Homo sapiens: one gene and its partners. The protein of the gene in region 3 interacts with the protein of the main gene of each other region in a pairwise test. Each region holds a gene or a part of one and is shown on either strand. Other genes may lie near its edges.

Region 1 (5,835 bases), on a different chromosome or scaffold from region 3:
CACTGGCTTGTTGTCATTTCTCCCTCATCACCTCCTACCCCTTTCATCCTTTTTCACTCTGCCTAGAATGCCCCTCCCATTTTTAGAAACTCCTTTGAGGCCATGACAGCCTGGGCACTTCTCTGTGGGGACCTCTACAGGCAGAAATCTTTAAGACCTCTTTCTGACTCCCAGCACCCATACCCCCACAATGGTTGGAATGAACTTAAGGGTGTTCCTCCAGGAGTCTGCTCGGAGTCTTAGCACAATGTCCATGTGTTTTTCTGCAGCCCCCAATGATTTTAGCCACCATCTCGTGGGCACCTGGCAGGTGCCCTGCCCTAGACTGGGAAACAAGTGGGCACCAAGTCATGCAAAGCCCGTGCTCCAGCCCAGATTCTTTCTCTCATTTACTAGGTGACCAGAGAAAGTCATGGAACCTCTCTGAGCTCAGCCACCCCTCTACATCCAATACAGACAAGAATAATCTCTGCTTTGTCCAACTCCTAGCACTTTAGGAGGCCAAGGCAGGTGGATCACCTGAGGTCAAAGAAAATAATCTCTGCTTTGTCCAGTATCAGAGTCAACAGAAGCTTGGGGTTAAGAAAGGCTTTCTGGGAGACTGATGCAGTATGCATGTGATAGGGATCCTTCCCTTTAAGAAGCCTGGTTTGTAGGGCTCTCAGAAAGGCTCCTCTACACCCCAACAGACTTCTGCTCTCTCTATCCCTCAATCTGTCAAGCTGCCTGAAATTCTGCCATCTGTCATTCTTTTGGGCTAAGGTATTATTATTGTTTATATCCAGATGGCCCCTGTTAAAAGATGCCAGCGATCTGGAAATGGTAACACAGTAGCCCCAGGAGCAAAAGCATGCTTTACCATTAATAAACATCTCTCTCATGGTCATTCTCTGACCCTGGTGTTGGAAGGTAAATAGGTGTGAGCTTTCTGGAGATAAAGTTGGCAATACTCATCAAAAGCTTTACAAATATGCACACTCTTTGATGCAACAATTCCTCCTCTGGAAATTTCTTCTAAGGGAACAATGTGTTCAAAACTATGTATACAAAGAAGTCTTATTTATAGTAGCACAGAATTATAAATAAATAACTTAAATGTCCAAAATAGGTAATTGGCTAAATAACAGTATGTATGTACAATCAAATACTATCAGGGACTGTTTTGTGGGCCTGTGACAAAGGCAGTCCATCAGGGCCCCAGGCTCAGAAAGCCCCTCACTTGGTTTAATGCTCTGCTGTCACCAGCTTAAAAATCTTAATGATTTTGAGCAAAGAATCCCTCATTTTCATTTTGTGGTGGACCACACACACACTATGTAGCTACTTCCTAGAATATTACGTAGCAATTAAAATAATGCTTATGGAGAATATTTGTTGAAATGGGAAGTTGCTTCAATTAAATGAAGAAATGAGGATATGAAACCATAAATGATGCAATCCTAATTTTGTATAAAACAGAAACATGTAGATAGATAGATAGATATAAAAAAAAAAGAGTGGATGGAAATTTACCATACATTGTAACATATACAATGTTAGAGCAATTATCTCTTTTTTTTTTTTTTTTAAGACGGAATTTTGCTCTTGTTGTCCAGGCTGGAATGCGATGACATTATCTCAGCTCACTGCAACCTCCACCTCCCGGGTTCAAGCAATTCTCCTGCCTTAGCCTCCCAAGTAGCTGGAATTACAGGCATGCACCACCACGCCCAGCTAATTTTGTATTTTCAGTAAAGAAGTAGAGACGGGGTTTTACCATGTTGATCAGGCTGGTCTCGAACTCCTGACCCCAGGTGATCCACCTGCCTCAGCCTCCTAAAGTGCTAGGATTACAGGTATGAGCCACCACGCCTGGCCTAGAGTAATCATCTCTAAAGAAACAAAACTACATGTATCATTTTTATTACCATTTTCTTCTTCGGTGTTTTTTTTTTTAATTTTCCAATACAAAGACTATGACTATACTTCCTGACTAATATTTCCAGAAGAGGCAAAAATGTATGTCATAGCTGAAAACAAGCAATTGTCTCTTGTGCCTCTGAGTGAATCCGGAACCCTTCATATGCACAGTAGCCTTCTGGATAAACACATGAAGAGAAGATCAGTTGATGAGGAAACCAAGTGTTCTTATGAGCTTCTTGAAGCTGAGGACTGATTTCTGGGTCCCCACTTCCCTCTACAGGCCTGGGATGGAAGGAGCACGGATAAGTGAATGGGTGTCCTGTCTTATTTATGGCATGAGGTCATGAGTAGTCTTTACCCATGACATGTCTCACCACACATTAACCACACTATGTTTTGCGTTCTCTCTAGCCTGGGACTAGACTGTGCCCTGAGTGAATTTCTGGATCAGAGAGAGGATCTGCCCCCCAAGTCCTTTTATGCCCCATTTCTCTCTGGAGCAGAGAGCAGACTTACTCCTATGCAAAGCTGGGGGAGCACATGTGGCTCCACCTGCCTCCCTCGTGCATGTGTCGCATTGCAGGCTTCACCCCAACAGCAGGGGGCAGTAGTGATCAGCAGGCCCAGGTGGGAGGCCTGGGGTGGGGAGGTCCTCCTGCAGGGAGTGGCCCCACTAACGCCACACCCATCTCCCATAAGTCTCCTCTCCCAAATCCTTTATTCGGCTGTTGCTGACTGTCCTGACTCAGCTGAGCATGGCAAGGAACACAAGGATCCTAGAACCTTAGCTCTCTACATTCAAGGCCTGAGTTAATGTCCCCATGTGACAGATGAGAGCACAGGGGCCCTGAAAAGGGAAGGATTTGCTGAGAGCCACACAGTGAGCAAGGGGCAAACAGAGTGCTGAGCACTACTGTGGGGAGGCCAGGCTCATAACACAGAACTGCCCCATATGGGACGGCTATTCAAAAGAAGGTGGGCAGCCCCAAATATGAGTGATGCCCACTGCACTTTCTGTGTGCCCACATCTGCGACATGTGTCCCAGTCTAGGGCACACTCATGGCTATGCTGGGATGACAGGACCACCTTGCCTCTGAAGTCCAACACTTTTTTCAGCCCCGTGTTGCTAGGTGGGCCTTTTCTGCTCCACTAAGACTGAAATCTCCCCAGGACACAGGCTGGGCCTCCTCCTCCTGCCTGTCTTCCCTTCAGCATGCCCAGCACATGGCAGGGCTCACAGTGCTCAGGGAAGATGTGGGGGCTCAAATGTGGGGTGTAGAGGGTGTCACAGTGCTCATCTGTGCTCTGCCAAGCCCAGGCTGGGCTGTGGGATTTTCCTCGCCTTCCTCCTCAGTTCCCTGGTGCCCTCCTGATGAGCTCCTAAGTGTACTTCCCGCTGTCCCACCTCAGGCCTTCACCGGGTGGTGGGCTACTGGGAGCTCTTCTCCACAGCGCCTCCTTTCCTCTCCTTCAGCTCCATTCTTCTCTCCTTAGAGCCCAGCCCTAGTGAATCCCACTCCCTGGACTCTCACCTGGGCTCCCACAGCCTCTGGCCTATAACCCTGGTGACCATGAACGCTTCAAGAAGCAATTTAGTCCATTGGGGTGGGGACCTTCAGAGCCCCACAGATCTGTGTTCAGACCTGGTTCTTCTACTGAACAACATGGGTGAACTTGGCAAGTCCCTTAAGCTGATCTGTGAAAAGGAGATGCTAATCCCTGCTCACGTGGATAGGCATGAGGCTTCAGAGACAGCACAGAGAGTGCCTGGCAGAGCAGGTAGGCAGCTAACAGCTGCCATTTGTACCTTCACTGGGTTATTTATATCTAAGGTCATTCTCCCTGTGAGATGAAGAGCGCTTTGAGGGCAGGGGTGGGGTCTTTTTGGTATCCCAGGACTTAGCATAGGTTGAAACAATGAATGGATGAATGAAGTGTCTGGGGATGGTCAGGGTACACTCTGAGAAGTCTGCCCCTCACCATAAGATTCTGGAAAACATCCTTCACCCCTCACACCCAGCTGTGCTCAGCCCTCAGGCCCTCCTCTCCACCTTAGCCCCATTCTCAGTGCTTGCAATGACAGCCCCACTCCAATGACTTTTTCCCTCCTAATTACCCTTTTAAATAAAATTTATGAAGGTTTTCATAAATTTTAAAACTGATTTACACACTTTAATAAAAGCATGTGATGGACAGGGAGTATTAGGCTGCAGATTTTCTACAATGAAATTGACGTGAGCACATCCCAGATTATCAAGTTTGGGAGCTGCCCCCTCCCCCAGCCTCCAGGAGCTCCCCGCTTGCTCAGGATTGACAAATGTGTCTCTTTCTTGGCAGACAACAGTGAGCTGGGACGGAGACAAGCTCCAGTGTGTGCAGAAGGGTGAGAAGGAGGGGCGTGGCTGGACCCAGTGGATCGAGGGTGATGAGCTGCACCTGGTAGGTTCCTGGGCTGGGTCAGGCCGGGTCCCCAGAGGCCCTGGTCATTGTTGAGGTCCAGATGGACCTTGGAAAAAGGCACCATGGATGGGCCTTGGTTCTGTTCTAAAGCTTCTCTTCCAAGGGCCTGGAAAAGATGCCTGGGTGACTTTAAAAACCAAGCAATGTATTTTCAAGGTCTAGGCTGACCCAATCATCTAATCAGAGGGAAGAGGTGAGGAGTTATATCCATTAAGCATCAGCAATGAGCTAAGCCCTTTTGCATTCTATAACTCTATTCTCTCAGAATAGGAATATGGCTCTTATTTTAGAGATGAGGACCTGGGGGCTCTGAAAGATTAGATTACATGTCCAAATTGCACAACTAGAAAGTGACAGAACAAACATTTGCTCCCAAATGATGTATATATTCACCATGCCAAATTGTATAGGCCAAAGCCAAGAAGGATTCTCTAAGCTTCTCTAAGATATGATCTCAATCTGGGTCAGCGGGAGGTGATTCGGGAGGGGAAGCGTCAAGGGGTCCTGTTGGTCAGCTCTGAGCCACATCCATTCCTCTCAGCCAGCTCTGTCTGTAGGGTGCTGCAGAGCACTCCACTATACAGTTTAACTGTCTTTCCAAACAATTGGTTACTTAAACCAACTCTTGGGGAAAAATAACAGCCAATGAGTATTTTTAGAGTTCTTGCCGTAAGTGTGACTCTGCTCTGGCCAATGACCAACATCTGCTTTTGTTTCAGGAGATGAGAGTGGAAGGTGTGGTCTGCAAGCAAGTATTCAAGAAGGTGCAGTGAGGCCCAGGCAGACAACCTTGTCCCAAGGAATCAGCAGGATGTGTGGGCCAGGATCCCCCTCTTTGCACAGCATGAGGCAAAAATGTCCAGCCACCCCCAGGCATCTGTTAGCAGAGTCTGTCTCTTGGCTTTGTCACTTTTCCTTTTCTTAAAACAAAGCCATGCCAATAAAGTGATCTGTGTTCAAAACGTCTGTTTGGGGGAAGTTTCACTGCCCACTGTGCTCACTTTTTCTCCAGGGCTTCTGAGGCCAGCTTCTCCTAGTGCCACCCATGGGCAGAGTGGATAAATTCAGCCACATGTCCTGAAATTGCACCGTGTTTCTCTCCAGAGGCACAGGCTTGGGTCTAGAATGGGAGGTGGGAGAGTGGCCTGACATTCAATCATTTGTGTATCAAGTAGCTACCATGTTATGTATCTAATTGTGGCCAAAGTATAGTGAGTGCCACAAAAGCAGGAGAAGATACCTTCCACCCTAGAGATCCAACCAACAGAGAATGTCTATATAACTGCACAGTACACCAAGGAGATGCTTCATCATTATTTGTGAATGAAATGGAACTGGACAGAATTTTAAGCCCAAAGCATAAAATTACTTAAACATAAGTAATTACCTATTGGATTTAATTTCAGAGATGTCATGAGATGTCACCACCCTCAGACCATCCACCCCATCTACGGGCTGGTATCAGCCCTTTC
Region 2 (7,030 bases), on a different chromosome or scaffold from region 3:
AATCCCAGCCACTATGGATGGAGGCTGAGACAGGAGAATTGCTTGAGTCTGCGAGGCGGAGGTTGCGGTGAGCCAAGATCACGCCACTGTACTCCAGCCTGGGTGACTGCGAGACTCCGTCTCAAAAAACAAAAACAAAAACAAAAAACAACAACAACAAAGGATACATTTAAGAAAAAAAAAAGGATACACTTTTCCCCATTTTTTATATGGCCTTGGGATTTATGCTATCAATTATAGTTTAATCTCCTGAAATTTTTATAGTAGTTATATGTGTGTGTGTGTTTGCCTGTAAGAGAAAGAGAGATGGGGGAGAGATAATGCATATAGAGGATGGTCAGTCATCATAATCACAGTTACTCTTTATGGAATTCCTGTTTTGTACCTGGCCCTAAGTATTCTGCGTACATTATTTTGTTGCATCCTTTCAGCAGATCACATTTATTATAGGTAGTAAATGGCCTGAATGTGATGGAGCTAGGATTGGAATGTAGATTCATCTTATTCTTCATCATCATTATCCTCACCATAATCATCATCAAAACATTTATTCCACACTTACCACATATTAGGCACTGGGCTAATTATACGTATCTACATTATTTTATTTAATTCTTATAACAATCCTATGAGATAGATGTTATTATTAGTCACATTTTTTCTGATGAAGTACCTAAGAGTTAGTTCAATAACTTGGTCAATATGCCACAGCTGTTAGATGGTGGAGCTGAGACCTGTTCTATTCCACTAACTCTGTGTCCCCAAGTTGTATAATTCACATAATGTTCTCTAGGAATGGGACCCTTTGGATCTCCACTAAAAGCATGTTACCTCCCGAGGTTCTGCAATATTGTTGGCCCTGCAGAGGGTGCACTTTTTGTTTTTTTTGAGATGGAGTCTCGCTCTGTTGCCCAGGCTGGAGTGCAGTGGCGCAGTCTCGGCTCACTGCAAGCTCCGCCTCCCAGGTTCACGCCATTCTCCTGCCTCATCCTCCCGAGTAGCTGGGACCACAGGTGCTCGCCACCACACCCGGCTAATTTTTTTGTGTTTTTTAGTAGAGACGGGGTTTCACCGTGTTAGCCAGGATGGTCTCGATCTCCTGACCTTGTGATCTACTTGCCTCAGCCTCCCAAAGTGCTGGGATTACAGGAGTGAGCCACTGCACCCGGCCTGCAGAGGGTATACTTTTAACCACTATGTTCTTTCTACTACCATGCTGCTTCCTTTAGAAGTCAGTAAATTATACAACTTTAGATCTTTATAAGGAAGGGCTAAGTAGCCTGCAGCTGTCATTTCTTAGTTCTTATAATTTGTCAATTATAACAAAGTGAAACGTGCCTTTTTGTTTTCTTTCCAACTACTTTTTAACAAATTTTAGACAAATTTGTTATACATGACAGTTATCTAAGTTCTTGTGCAGGAAAAATAAGACTTTTTGTCCTTTATCAGCATACAATTCTTCTGTTGTACATGATGTAATAGTTTGAAGCTGCCAAAGTCCAGCCCTCAGGAAATTGTTTGAGTTGAGTAACTATTCGCTGGAGAGTTTAAGATAACCAGCTCATAAATCAACAAATAGCTTGGCCCTTTTTATGGTTGTAGATGCTTATCTCTTTCTATTTTCAAGCTTGAATCAGAAGCAAATATTGTTTCCATTTATATAGTCACTATTAGAAAAAGTTGTCAGCAGTATCTCAAGCTAGATAAGGCCATTTTGTGAGTTCTTTTCTTTAAGGAGAGTCAGAATTTATCAGGATGTTAGAATTGGTTGTTCTAGGCTAGGTACCTTCAAACAAAAAGTTTTCTCTTTCAATGAAACTGTCAGTGATTCAATGCCTATTATATTCAACCTCTGTGTGGAATTAGAAAGATGCCCTTAAGACAAAATGTAGTCCACGTACCCAAATAACTGTAACATGAGGGAGAATGTGAGTATTGTAATCCAAACCCCACCATGCACTGAGAGCACAGAGGAGGATGAAATAAATTGGGAGATTGGAAAGGTGAGAGGGTGAGAGAATGATCTGGGAAGGCTTTTCCTTGTAGGATAGTTAAGATTTTCAGCAAGAATAAATGGAGAGGAAAGGCATTCCAGAGAGAGGCAATATTAGAGTCAAGACAATGAGAAAGTAAAGGACAGGGTATATTTGTTATAAAGAAAGGAGTCTAGTGTACTTGGAGTGGAGGATGAGTGAGAGGCACATAATGGATGATCAATGAAATGTTTGATCAGTGAGTGAATGAGTAGATGAAGCTGGAAATGGTGGTAAGGTCCGGTGATTCTCAAACTTTACGCTGGTGCCAGACATATTTAATTCTATCTTATAATTAGGAATTAATTTTTTTTTTCTTTGAGCTGGAGTCTTGCTCTGTCACCAGGCTAGAGTGCAGTGGTGCGATCTTGGCTCACTGCAACCTCTGCCTCCCGGGTTCAAGATTCTCCTGCCTCAGCCTCCTGGGACTACAGGCACGCGCCACCACGCCCAGCTAATTTTTGTATTTTTAGTAGAGACGGGGTTTCACCATGTTGGCCAGGATGATCTTGATCTCTTGACCTCGTGATCTGCCCACCTCAGCCTCCTAAAATGCTGGGATTACAGGTGTGAGCCACTGTGCCTGGCCAGGAATTAATTTTATTGGCAGAATATGTGAATATCAAAAATATGCAGCATAAAAATCACAATCATGAACATGATTCAGTGATATGATTTGGATGTTTGTTCCCTCAAATCTAATGCTGAAATGTGATCCCCAATGTTGGGGCCTAGTGGAAGGTATTAGATCATGGGGGTGGATCCCTCATGAATAGCTCAGTGATGAGTGAGTTCTCACTCAGTTAATTCACACAAGATCTGGTTGTTTAAGAGAGCCTGAGACCTCTCCCTTGTCTCTCTCGCCATGTGACACCTGGGCTTCCCTTTGCGGTCTGTCATGATCGTAAGCTCCCTGAGGCCTTGCCAGAAGCTGAGCAGATGCTGGTGCCATGCTTCCCATACACAGTGCAGAACCATTAGCTGATTAACTTCTTTTCTTTATAAATTACCCAGCCTTGGGTATTTCTTTATAGCAGTGCAAACATGGCTTAACACTGTCAGTTAGGAAAAAAGGTGTTAAAATAGTTCCAATTGACTGCTTTGATTTTTTTCCCTCTTAATTTTGCTACTATTTGTTCAAGTTTCTGTAGTGCTAGCAGTAGACTAAGTAGGTAAGAAAAAATTATGGTAGAGAAACTTATGAAAAATCCATCTATTAATTTTCTTTCCTGTGAATTAGAAAAATACCATTGTTCTTTTCCAGCCAAAAGAATATCTCCCTCTAGGAGCCATTAAATATTTTGAAAAGGAGTGACATGGTGTGGAATGTGTTTTAGGAGTCAGGTGGTAGTGACATGTAGGATTAGAGGACTGGCAATGAGTCAGTAATGTGGTGCAGTGGTCCAGATGTGGTGAGGATCTGAACCTTAGTAGCAGCAGCAGTGAAAATAGAATGAAAGGAAATAGAGATCCACACCAGGCCCTCTGTTTCTAAATAGGAAATAGTTACCAATTATTAACCAGCTTTCATATTGTTAGGATATTACGGGTCTCAATGGTCGGTTATCTCTGGTCTCAAGTCCTTTCACTCTATTTTTAGGGAAAATGTGTTTAAACCCCTATTTTAAGGAAATGATAGTTTATAGATTATTTATAAATTATAGTTAATTTAGAAAATAGAAAAAAGGAAAAAAATCCATAATTTCATCATCCTAACAAGACCGCTATCATTTTACATTTACTTACCCCGATGTTGCTGAGTTTTAAACTTCTCTGTTAATTCATTCTGCGCACATTTAGCTCTGAGAAACAGGTTTCTGAACTAATAAAACACCCAATAATTGCCATACTGTGATATTAAACAGTAAACCAAGAGGTTTCACATATAACCCTCAGTGGATTGTAGGATCACAAACTACGTCAACGTCTCTTCTTTTTTTTTTGAGACAAAGTCTCACTCCATTGCCAGGCTGGAGTGCAGTGGCGTGATCTTGGCTCACTGCAACCTCCGACTCCCTGGTTCAAGCAATTCTCCTGCCTCAGCCTCCCGAGTAGCTGGGATTACAGGCACATGCCACCACGCCCGGCTAATTTTTGTATTTTTAGTACAGATGGGGTTTCACTATGTTGGCCAGACTGGTCTCGAGCTCCTGACCTCGTGATCTGTCCGCCTCGGCCTCCCAAAGTGTTGGCATTACAGGCGTGAGCCACTGTGCCCGTTCACATCTCTTCTTTTCCTATAAATCAATCTTGGTCCATCTACCTTTAGACATATAAATATTTATTTCCCAAATGCCTCAATCCCTTTTGGGCCCAAAGTTCCATCTTCTTCAGTGAATTATTTGCATAATTTAAAATGTTTTTTATTTTGAATTTATAGAAAAGTTGGAAAAATAGTTACCTCTAATGATACCATCTTATATAACCATAATACATTTATCAGAACCAGGAATTAATAGTATTGGTATAACACTATTAACTAAAGAGCTTTCCTGAATTTCACCAGTTTGCCTACCATTATTATTTTTCCTTTTTTATTTTCAGTTTTTTTAAATTGTAATTTATTTTTTTTTTATTTTTAAAGACAGGGTCTTGCTTTGTCACCCTGGCTGGAGTGCAGTGGCACAGTCATAGCTCACTACAGGCTTGAATTTCCAGGCTCAAAAAGTCCTCCTGCCTCACCCTTCTGAGTAGCTGGGACTACAGGCAAGCATTAGCCTGGCTAATTAAAAAAAATTTTTTTTGGCCAGGTGCAGTGGCTCACGCCTGTAATCCCAGCACTTTGGGAGGCTGAGGCGGGCGGATCACCCGAGGTCAGCAGTTTGAGACCAGCCTGGCCAACATAGTGAAACCCCATCTTTACTGAAAATACAAAAATTAGCTGGGCGTGGTGGCAGGCGCCTGTAATCCCAGCTACTCCAGAGGCTGAGGCAGGAGGATTGCTTGAACCCAGGTGACTGAGGTTGCAGTAAGCCAAGATCGCGCCATTTTACTCCAGCCTGGGTGACAAGTGAGAAACTTTGTTTCAAAAAAAAATTTTCTTTGTTTTGTAGAGACAGGGTTTCGCCATCTTGCACAAGCTGCATTGTTCTTTTTCTGTTCCAGGATCCTATCTGGAATCTCACATTGCATTTTAGGTGTTTTTCTTCCTTACTCTTCTGTATTCTGTAAAAGTTTCTTAGTCTTTCTTTGTCTTTTATAACCTTGACATTTTTGTAGAGTATTGATCAATATCAGTTTGAGGGCTATTTGTCAAATATTCCTTAATTTGGATTTGTCTGATATTTTTCTGATGATTGGACTGAGATTATGGTTTAGGCAAGAATACCACAGAAATAATTGTGTCCTTTTCAGTGCATCATATCATGGCATTCATGATGTCAATATGTATTATTACTGGTTATTTTGACCTTGATCACTTGGTTAAGGTAGTTTCTGCTGGGTTTCTCCATTGTGAAACTACTATATTTTCCTTTGTAGTTAATAAATGCCTTAGTGGAGATACTTTGATACTGTCATTTTTATTAATGTCATGGAGTTCTCTACACATGCAATTAATAGTGTCTCCTTAAAGACTTTATTGAACTTTAGTTACTGTGAAGTCAATTAGCTTAAAGAGTCCATCTCCTTGGATGGGCGCAGTGGTTCACGCCTGTGCCACCGCATGGTTCACAACTTTGGGAGGCCGAGGTGGGTGGATCACTTGAGGCCAGGAGTTCAAGACCAGCCTGGCCAACATGGCGAAACTCTGTCTCTACTAAAAGTACAAAAATAGCCAGGCATGGTGGCGCATGCCTGTAATCCCAGCTACTCGGGAGGCTGAGGTAGGAGAATTGCTTGAACCCGGGAGGTGGAGGTGGCTGTTGCAGTGAGCCAAGATCGCATCACTGCACTCCAGCCTGGGTGACAGAGCGAGACTCTGTCTCAAAAAAAAAAAAAAGTCCTTCTCCTTAGAAACTTCCCACACTTTACACCTGGTTTTATCAAAGGGTTCCCAGGCTTTGCACGAACAAATTCTATCTAGTCTTCATTGATTTCAGTTCCATTCTAGCTCTGCTCATAATGAATCTCTTATGCTAATAACCTGTAGCTCTCTGGGCCTCATTTACCCCTCTGTCTCTTAGGGCGCCAGGCTCCTCCTGGCCCAGTGTCCTTCCAGGCCTCATCTCCCTTTATGCACAAGCCAGTTCCTTTGAATGACTGCTTTGGGTTTTTTCCGAAACAGGCTGAGAGAAGCTGACTTTGTTGGTGAAGAATACAGTGGGGGATAATTAGGGTGGCTGCAGCTGGAGCCTGGTTTATTACTTTGGCCTGAGAAAAATGGTAGCACATTAAGCTGTACTGTGTATACTTGTGAAAGAATCATTCTCTGTATTTCACTAATACAGAGAAAGTGTTTTTTTCTAAAGGTCACCAGCTTCTAGAGGTATGTCTTTAATTCTGGCAACCTTAATCTGTAATGATCTTTTCAATTTAGCCCTGTTGACTGTGGAGTTACTTGCTGTGAGCACAAGAATCCAAAATCCAAATGTGGACCAAATATTATATTTAGATCTATTTAGTTCAAACAAATTTTATACAGTGAATAACATTAGATGTTTCTTTGATTAATAAAATACAAATTTATTAGTATTACTGAATTCAAAGTAGCTTTTTGAATTATGTATTTTCTCAAGTGACATATACTATAAAAGCCCCATTTATGTAATGTGGATGGGGCAGACTTAGATTCTCTGACACTTGAAGCTTATGCAATTCAGAGGGCCTCCTTTAAGGAAAATATTTTTTGAAACAGAAAATGAGATATTGGGCCTTGAGAATCTGTGCAAGAGAAAGAGTCCTGAAGCTTAAGTTTCAGTGGCTTGGTAAATCTGCCTCTGGATGTGAGGCACTGCAAAAAGGTTGAGACCCACTGTTTTCCATCATTTCATACATGGAAAGGTTTTTGGCTTACCCACAGGAGGCTAGTGTTTTCAGATTGGGAACAGTGGGACATA
Region 3 (7,311 bases):
TACAGGCATGAGCCACTGTGGCCGGCAAGACCCTGTCTCTTAAAAAAAAAAAAAAAAAAAAAAGACAGCAGAAATTCAACAGAAAATCTGGAAGATAAAGTTCAAGAAAGTTCCCAGGAAGTAGAGAAAATATAAAAGCAACACAGAAGCCACAGTAAGTCAACCAGAAGGACAACAGAGGACATCCAGTAACTTAATTACAGAAATACCGGAAAGAACAGAGAAAACAGATGGAGGGAATTCATCAATCAAATAATTCAAAATTCCCCACAGCTGAAGGACATGAATTTCTAGCTTGAAAGGGCCCACTGTGTGCCCACACTGTGAAGTGAAAAAAAAAAAACTTTATCAGAAGATTCAGAACACTGGTTATGAAGAAAACATAATTCAAACTTCCAGAGAAAAAAAAGGTCACATACAAAAATCAGGAGTAACACTAGAAGCTAAGATGTAGTGGAAAAATGTTTTCAGATGTCTGAAGAAATATTATTTCCAACAAATAATTCAATACCTAGACAAACAATCACTTAAGTGTAAGGGCAGAAAAAGAACTTTTTCAGCCGGGCGCGATGGTCAGCCTGACTAACATTTAGTATCTCTACTAAAAATAGAAAAACTATTAGCCGGGCATGGTGGCGCATGCCTGTAATCCCAGCTACTCGAGAGACTGAGGCAGGAGAATCCCTTGAACCCAGGAGGCAGAGGGTGCGGTGAGCAGAGATTGCACCATTGCACTCCAGCCTGGGCAACAAGAGCGAAACTCCGTCTCAAAAAAAACCCAAAAAAACAAAAAAACCCCACAACTTTTTCAGACATAAGCCTCAAACAGGGGCCGGTGTGGGGGCTCACAACTATAATCCCAGCACTTTGGGAGGCCAAGGCAGAAGGATCGCCTGAGCCCAGGAGTTCCAGAGTAGCCTGGGCAACAAAGGAAGACCCGTCTCTACAGAAAATAAAATAATCAGCTGGGCATGAGGTGTGATTGCGCAACTGTACTCTAGCCTGGGGAACAGAGTGAGACCCGGTCTCAAAAAATAGAAAAGAAAGCCTCAAAAGGTACATCTCATGCCCCCTTCTTCAGGAAGCTGGCAGAGTCTGTGTGCCATAATATAAGGTAGTAAGCCTGGGCAACACAGTGAAACCCCGTCTCTACAAACAATACAAAAACTAGCTGGGCATGGTGGTGCACACCTGTGGTACCAGTTACTCAGGAGGCTGAGACAAGAGGATCTCTTGAGCCTGGGAGGTTGAGGGAGCAGTGACCTATGATTGTGCCACTGCACTCCAGCCTGGGTGACAGAGCAAGACCTTGTCTCGAAAAAAAAAAAAAAAATTTTACATGGGCCGGGTGCGGTGGCTCATGCCTGTAATCCTGGCACTTTGGGAAGCCAAGGCAGGTGGACCTCTTGAGCTCCAGACTTCGAGTCCAGCCTAGGCAACATAGTGAGACCTTGTCTCTACAAAAAATACAAAAAACTAGCCAGCTGTGGTATTGTGTGCCTGCAGTCCCAGATACTCACTTGGGAGGCTGAGGTGGGAGGATCATCTGAGCCTAGGAGGTCAAAGCTACAGTGAGCTTTGATCATGCTATTGCACATCAGCCTGGGTGACAGACTGTCTCAAAAAAAAAAAAAAGAGGTAGTAAACTGAGAAAAAGAAAACTGTAGGATATACTAAACATAGGACCCAACAAAGATACAGAGAATTCCCAGATAATAATGGTTAAGAGAGATCTCAGCAAACAGCCGAGAGATCAGCCAGTCCATATTAAGCAAGTCCGAAGGCTCTAGAGATGTCTTCAGGAAGGTGAAACTGATAACATACTTCGTTCATCTGAACATCTTGAGGGGAGATTGAGAACACTAGTAAAGGATGTGAGGTTAAAGTAGGAATAAATATGTAAAAAACTAAATAAGCACATAAACAAAACCAAGATAGTTGTAACTCCAGGGAAATCCAAAAGTTACAAAGAAAACAAAAAGTAATCATAGCTTCCTACATGGTTCCACTGTGACTAGTTTATATATCATCATACAAATAAAACTTGGAATCTTGATCTAAAAAAATTACCACTGAAGAATGGGGGTTAGGAAGGGTGCATAACTATATATTAATAGAAAAAAGATTTTGAAAAAGACAGAAAACAGGGCTTCTGAAAATAAACATGAATCAACAGCATTGGTTCCTGTGTCTGAACCATGGGTGTCAGGGGCAATGATTATGCCCCCTTCAGGACTGTCAATGTGTCTTGTGAACCTTCTTGTTGGAGGGAAAAAACCCAAAACTGGCTGGGCACGGTGGCTCACGCCTGTAATCCCAGCATTTTGGGAGGCTGAGGTGTCCGTATCACAAGGTCAGGAGTTTGAGACCAGCCTGGCCAATATGGTGAAACCCCGTCTCTTCTAAAAATACACAAATTAGCCGGGTGTGGTGGCATGCGCCTGTAGTCACAGCTACTTGGGAGGCTGAGGCAGGAGAATCACTTGAACTTGGGAAGCGGAGGTTGCACTGAGCTGAGATCGCCCATTGCACTCCAGCCTGGGAGACAGAGCAAGACTCTGTCTAAAAAAAAAAAACAAACCAACCCAAACTACTGTCAGTGTATGGATTAACCTATTCAGACACAGAACAGTTCTGGCGATTATTGTTTAAAGTGACAGCATTCCAAACCCTCAGGCCATCAAATCTGAGAGCCCAGAACAATTGTATAAGCTAACATCAGTTGGCTTTTTTCCCATCCTTTTTGGAAACAAGTATGTTTGAATACTTGGCTGCACTAATCTTTCAAGCACATATACTTAAGTCTCCTTAATTTTGACTGAGATGAGGAAACAAAGTTGGCTTATTTTTCTCAGTTCCTTAAAAACAGTAACTCAAGATAAACCCTTTCAAAATGCAGTACAGTACTTTTAAAACAAAAGCCATCCAAGTTGAATAAGCGATGGCAGTTTGGGGGCCTGATATGGCTGTTATTTATAAGGTGGCCATTTTTACATCCTAAGAGTAGTTCATTAGTCAATGCATTTTGAGTATATCAAATTTGATTTGATCTTATCCTAGCATACTCTGAACACATCTTGAGATCAACCCTTCTCAAGTGATTTTGGTGAGCATAGCCAAAGAGTACCCTCTGCTGGTCAGAAAAAAAATGGTGCTTTCACAATACCCAGATTTACTCCAACGATTGCATATGCATTTAGGTTTTGTGGCTCTTAAAATGCTTTTTTTTTTTTTTTTGAGATGGAATTTCGCTCTTGTTGCCCAGGCTGGAGTGCAATGGCGCGATCTCGGCTCACGGCAACCTCCGCCTCCCGGGTTCAAGCGATTCTCCTGCCTCAGCCTCCTGAGTAGCTGGAATTACAGGCGCCCGCCACCACGCCCAGCTAATTTTTTGTATTTTTAGTAGAGACGAAGTTTCACCATGTTGGCCAGGCTGGTCTCGAACTCCTGACCTTAGGTAATCCAACTGCCTCGGCCTCCCAAAGTGCTGGGATTACGGGAGTGAGCCACTGCGCTGGGCCTACTTTTTAAAGTGTATGGAAGCATTAACTTTAATGTTAACATCAGAATTTGAGAAAAAGAAGTTTAATAATTCAAAATTTCGTGTAAAATAATCAAGAACTCCACGTTTCTATCACTCACTGTAGGCTCCCGTCCCTTCCACCCCCGGGCGGGGACCCCTCCCAGCGACCCGGCCAGCTCTCAGCACTTCGGTCCCCACTGGCCTACTCGCTCCGACGGAGGGGCTCCTGCAACTGCGCTGTACCGTAAATATTTGCTGAATCGATTTGACTTTTACTTGTTCCAATTTCGCTTTTTTGTTGTTTTGTTTTTTTGTCTTTTTACGAACAAGAGGTTTAGAGAACCACATGGAAAAAAGGCAGGGCCAGGCCCGGACACCCCGCCTCCTGCCTCCCGGCCCGGCGGTGCCCGGATGCCCCGCCCGCGCCCATGGCGCAGCCACACACGACCTCGGTCCCGTACTTCGCGCGCTCTCCTGCACCGCCGCCGCCATCTCGCTCAGGAGCTCCTCCACAACCGCCGGCAACACTACGGCCATCGCGCCGCAGGACACGCCCTCCACGACCGGCGGACCGCCGCGACGCTCCAGCTGACTGCGCCTACCTGTGGAGGATCCTGACCCCCCGCCGGGGCAGGGCGAGACGGAGTGACGTCGGGGCGCGTCATCGCGCGTGCGGACGCAGGGATGTCCTGCTCAGTCGTCAGGGCCCGGCCAATCCGGAGGGCGCTCGGCGCGTGGTCGGGGGCCAGGAGCGCGTCTGGCCTGCAGTGCGCAGAGGACGCGGCGGGAGCATGTTCCGGCTCCTGAGCTGGAGCCTGGGCCGAGGCTTCCTGCGGGCCGCGGGGCGGCGGTGCCGGGGCTGCTCCGCGCGCCTGCTCCCGGGGCTGGCAGGAGGTCCGGGGCCCGAGGTGCAGGTGCCGCCATCCCGAGTCGCGCCGCACGGCCGGGGCCCAGGCCTGCTGCCGCTGCTGGCAGGTGAGGGGCGCGGGCCGGGCGGGGCCGGCCGGGCGGGGACAGGGGCGCGGGCCGGGCCCGATGACCTCAGAGCCCCTTCCCGCAGCGCTCGCCTGGTTCTCGAGGCCCGCTGCGGCAGAGGAGGAGGAGCAGCAGGGAGCCGACGGGGCCGCTGCCGAGGACGGGGCGGACGAGGCCGAGGCAGAGATCATCCAGCTGCTGAAGCGAGCCAAGGTGAGGCGGCTCCGGGCCCTGCGCCCGGCCGAGCGCGGTAGCCTTTGTGAGCGGGGTCTTGGCGTTGCTGCGCATTACTCTCTCCGCCTCGCCGAAGAGTGGATGGAGGCTCCGCGGGTAAAATTGCCGAGAATGAGGTGGGTCATCCGAGAGGGGATTGGAATCCATCCAGGCTTTTCCGACTCTAAGGCCTGCAGTAAAACCTCTGCAGTGTCAAGTGCAAATGGAGATGGCGCCCTAGGCATCACGCTTTATGCAAACGAAATATCGGGAACGTTTTGTAGTGGTTTTATCAATTAACCAGCCTATCTGAAATGACATAATTTCGCACGTATATAGCGGCCTGAAAATGGCAACTTAGTGTTGGTTATGCGGTTCGGTTCTCCTCCTGAATTCTTCCTTTTCTCCACATCCTTTTCTATTTTTTTTTCCTCCTCTTTTCCCAAGTTATCTCATCTCTTCCATTGAGCTAAATACCTACTCGATGCCAACAACGTCCAAATTTGTATTTCCATTCTGTAGTGTGCTACTGACATGCCATTTGCACTTTAGGACCATACCTACCTCTCAGATTTAACATGCCCAAAACTAAACGATCTTTAATGCCTCCTCAACATACGCTTTCGCCATCTCTTTACTACCATCAGTTTTTCAGCCTAAAAACCTCATAGTCATTCTTAAAACTTGTGGTACCTTACCATTGCCTTCCAATACACTTACAGTCCAGCAACAAGTCCTGTTGCCAACAAATGCAAAATATTTCTCAAATCTTTCCCCTTTTGTCTATCTCCCTTGCTGTCACCCTAGTGCAAACCATCATTGCCACCAACTATGCTCCAGTAGTCTTTCCTGGCCTCCTGGCCTCTTGCAATCTATTCTCCATGCAGAAACCAAAGCGACCAAAAAAAAAAAGAGTAAATTGGATTATGTCATCTCCTTGTCAGAAAGCTCTGAATGGCTACCCACTGCATTTATGATAAAATACAAACTCCTTGCCTTGGCTTGCAACACCCCACATGATCTAAACCAGCATATACCTTGCCCACCCATTTGGCAGTAATCCTCTGGCTCACCATCCTCCCTTCACATCTATTTCTTTGCATTTCTTCCTCAAAACCATTCTCTTCAGCTTGTAGGGACTTCACTCATTCTCTACCCTCTGTTTGAGTCATTGTTCTCCCCAGGTCCTTATTTGGTTGACTCATTCTCATCCTTACTACCTCAGTTTAGCTGTCACTTCCTTGGAAGGCTTCCCTAAGTCCTATTTAGAGGAGACCCCTTATCATTCCTTTCTGTCATCTTTATAGCTCTTATCATTAGTTGTAATTAAGCTTACTTGTCCTATATGGTCACCTCCAGCCTGCAAGAAATTAGAAAGAGGATGGAGGACAAGCAGCTTCCTTATAAAATATGTTGTAAGATCACATTCCTTCTGCCTGTGTCTCTTGGCCAAAACTTCATCAGATGGCCACACCTAGCTGCAAGGGAGGCTGACCTCCCTGTCATCTCTGTAGACAATGCTTTGTACATAGTAGGAATTCAGTAAATGTCTGATGAATGAGTTAGCTTCCTTCTATCAGTTGGGATGTACAGTTGCATACACTTCTGTCTCTTAGCATATGCATCTACTATATGTTTCATTTTCTATTATTTTGTCTTCCCTTTTCAGTTGAGCATTATGAAAGATGAGCCAGAAGAGGCTGAGTTAATTTTGCATGACGCTCTTCGTCTCGCCTATCAGACTGATAACAAGAAGGCCATCACTTACACTTATGATTTGGTAACTCTTATAACCAGTCTGAACCACTGATGAGGAAGGTTGGATGGGAGGGAAGGGTAGTTAGTTCTTCTGATTTATATTCCTGACTTTCACGATGTTCTAAAACTCCTTTTCTTTTTACTGAGTTTTCTTTTGGCTTCAGTTTCATTTTTTGTTTTGTTTTGTTTTTTTGAGATGGAGCCTCACTCTGTTGCCCAGGCTGCAGTGCAGTGGCACAATCTTGGCTCACTGCAGCCTCCGCCTCATGAGTTCAGACGATTCTTTTGCCTCACCCTCCCGAGTAGCTGGATTACAGGCATGCATCACTATGCCTGGCTAAATTTTGTATTGTAGTAGAGACGAGGTTTCACCATATTGGCCAGGCTGGTCTCGAACTCCTGATCTCAGGTGATCCACCTGCCTTGGCCTCCCAAAGTGCTGAGATTTCAGGCATGAGCCACCACGCCCGGCCACAGCTTCAGTTTTTTTACCCTTGGGGTGACATAAGACCTCTCAATTCCAGACCAAAAAAAACCAGTATCATTAGCATGTTTTTTTAATGATGAGTGGACCTAGATTTGGTTTGTTAACAACAAAGTATGTGCAAGTATTTAATTCTCACATGATTGCTGTCCTGTGCTTCTTCTTGCAGATTAATTGGTGATGTGCTTTTCATTTTCAACTATTTTTTAAATTTTGAGGGTGAAAGCAAAAGGGAATTTTAAAGTTTTGAAATAAGTAGGAACACAGTATTCTAAACTGAAAAACAATTTGTAATTTGCTTTCAGATGGCCAACTTAGCATTTATACGGGGTCAGCTTGAAAATGTAAGTAAATTGCT

What was found. Proteins that work in one complex are often made in the same cells at the same time.
Region 1: the proteins of TTC19 (region 3) and RBP1 interact in binary tests that used the Homo sapiens proteins (3 or more experiments, as listed by UniProt).
Region 2: the proteins of TTC19 (region 3) and USP54 interact in binary tests that used the Homo sapiens proteins (3 or more experiments, as listed by UniProt).

Annotation. Positions count from the first base shown.
Region 1 is NC_000003.12:139,516,928-139,522,762, reverse strand, and holds the end of RBP1 (retinol-binding protein 1), read left to right. Parts: intron 1-4,240; coding exon 4,241-4,342; intron 4,343-5,082; coding exon 5,083-5,136; 3' UTR 5,137-5,325; downstream 5,326-5,835. UniProt on the Homo sapiens protein: Cytoplasmic retinol-binding protein. Accepts retinol from the transport protein STRA6, and thereby contributes to retinol uptake, storage and retinoid homeostasis.
Region 2 is NC_000010.11:73,581,333-73,588,362, reverse strand, and holds part of USP54 (ubiquitin carboxyl-terminal hydrolase 54), read left to right. Parts: intron 1-7,030.
Region 3 is NC_000017.11:15,995,535-16,002,845, forward strand, and holds the start of TTC19 (tetratricopeptide repeat protein 19, mitochondrial isoform 1 precursor), read left to right. Parts: upstream 1-4,289; 5' UTR 4,290-4,314; coding exon 4,315-4,498; intron 4,499-4,583; coding exon 4,584-4,711; exon of another isoform or gene 4,712-4,848; intron 4,849-6,380; coding exon 6,381-6,491; intron 6,492-7,258; coding exon 7,259-7,297; intron 7,298-7,311. Other genes in the region: ZSWIM7 (zinc finger SWIM domain-containing protein 7), read right to left, coding at 3,985-4,060. UniProt on the Homo sapiens protein: Required for the preservation of the structural and functional integrity of mitochondrial respiratory complex III by allowing the physiological turnover of the Rieske protein UQCRFS1.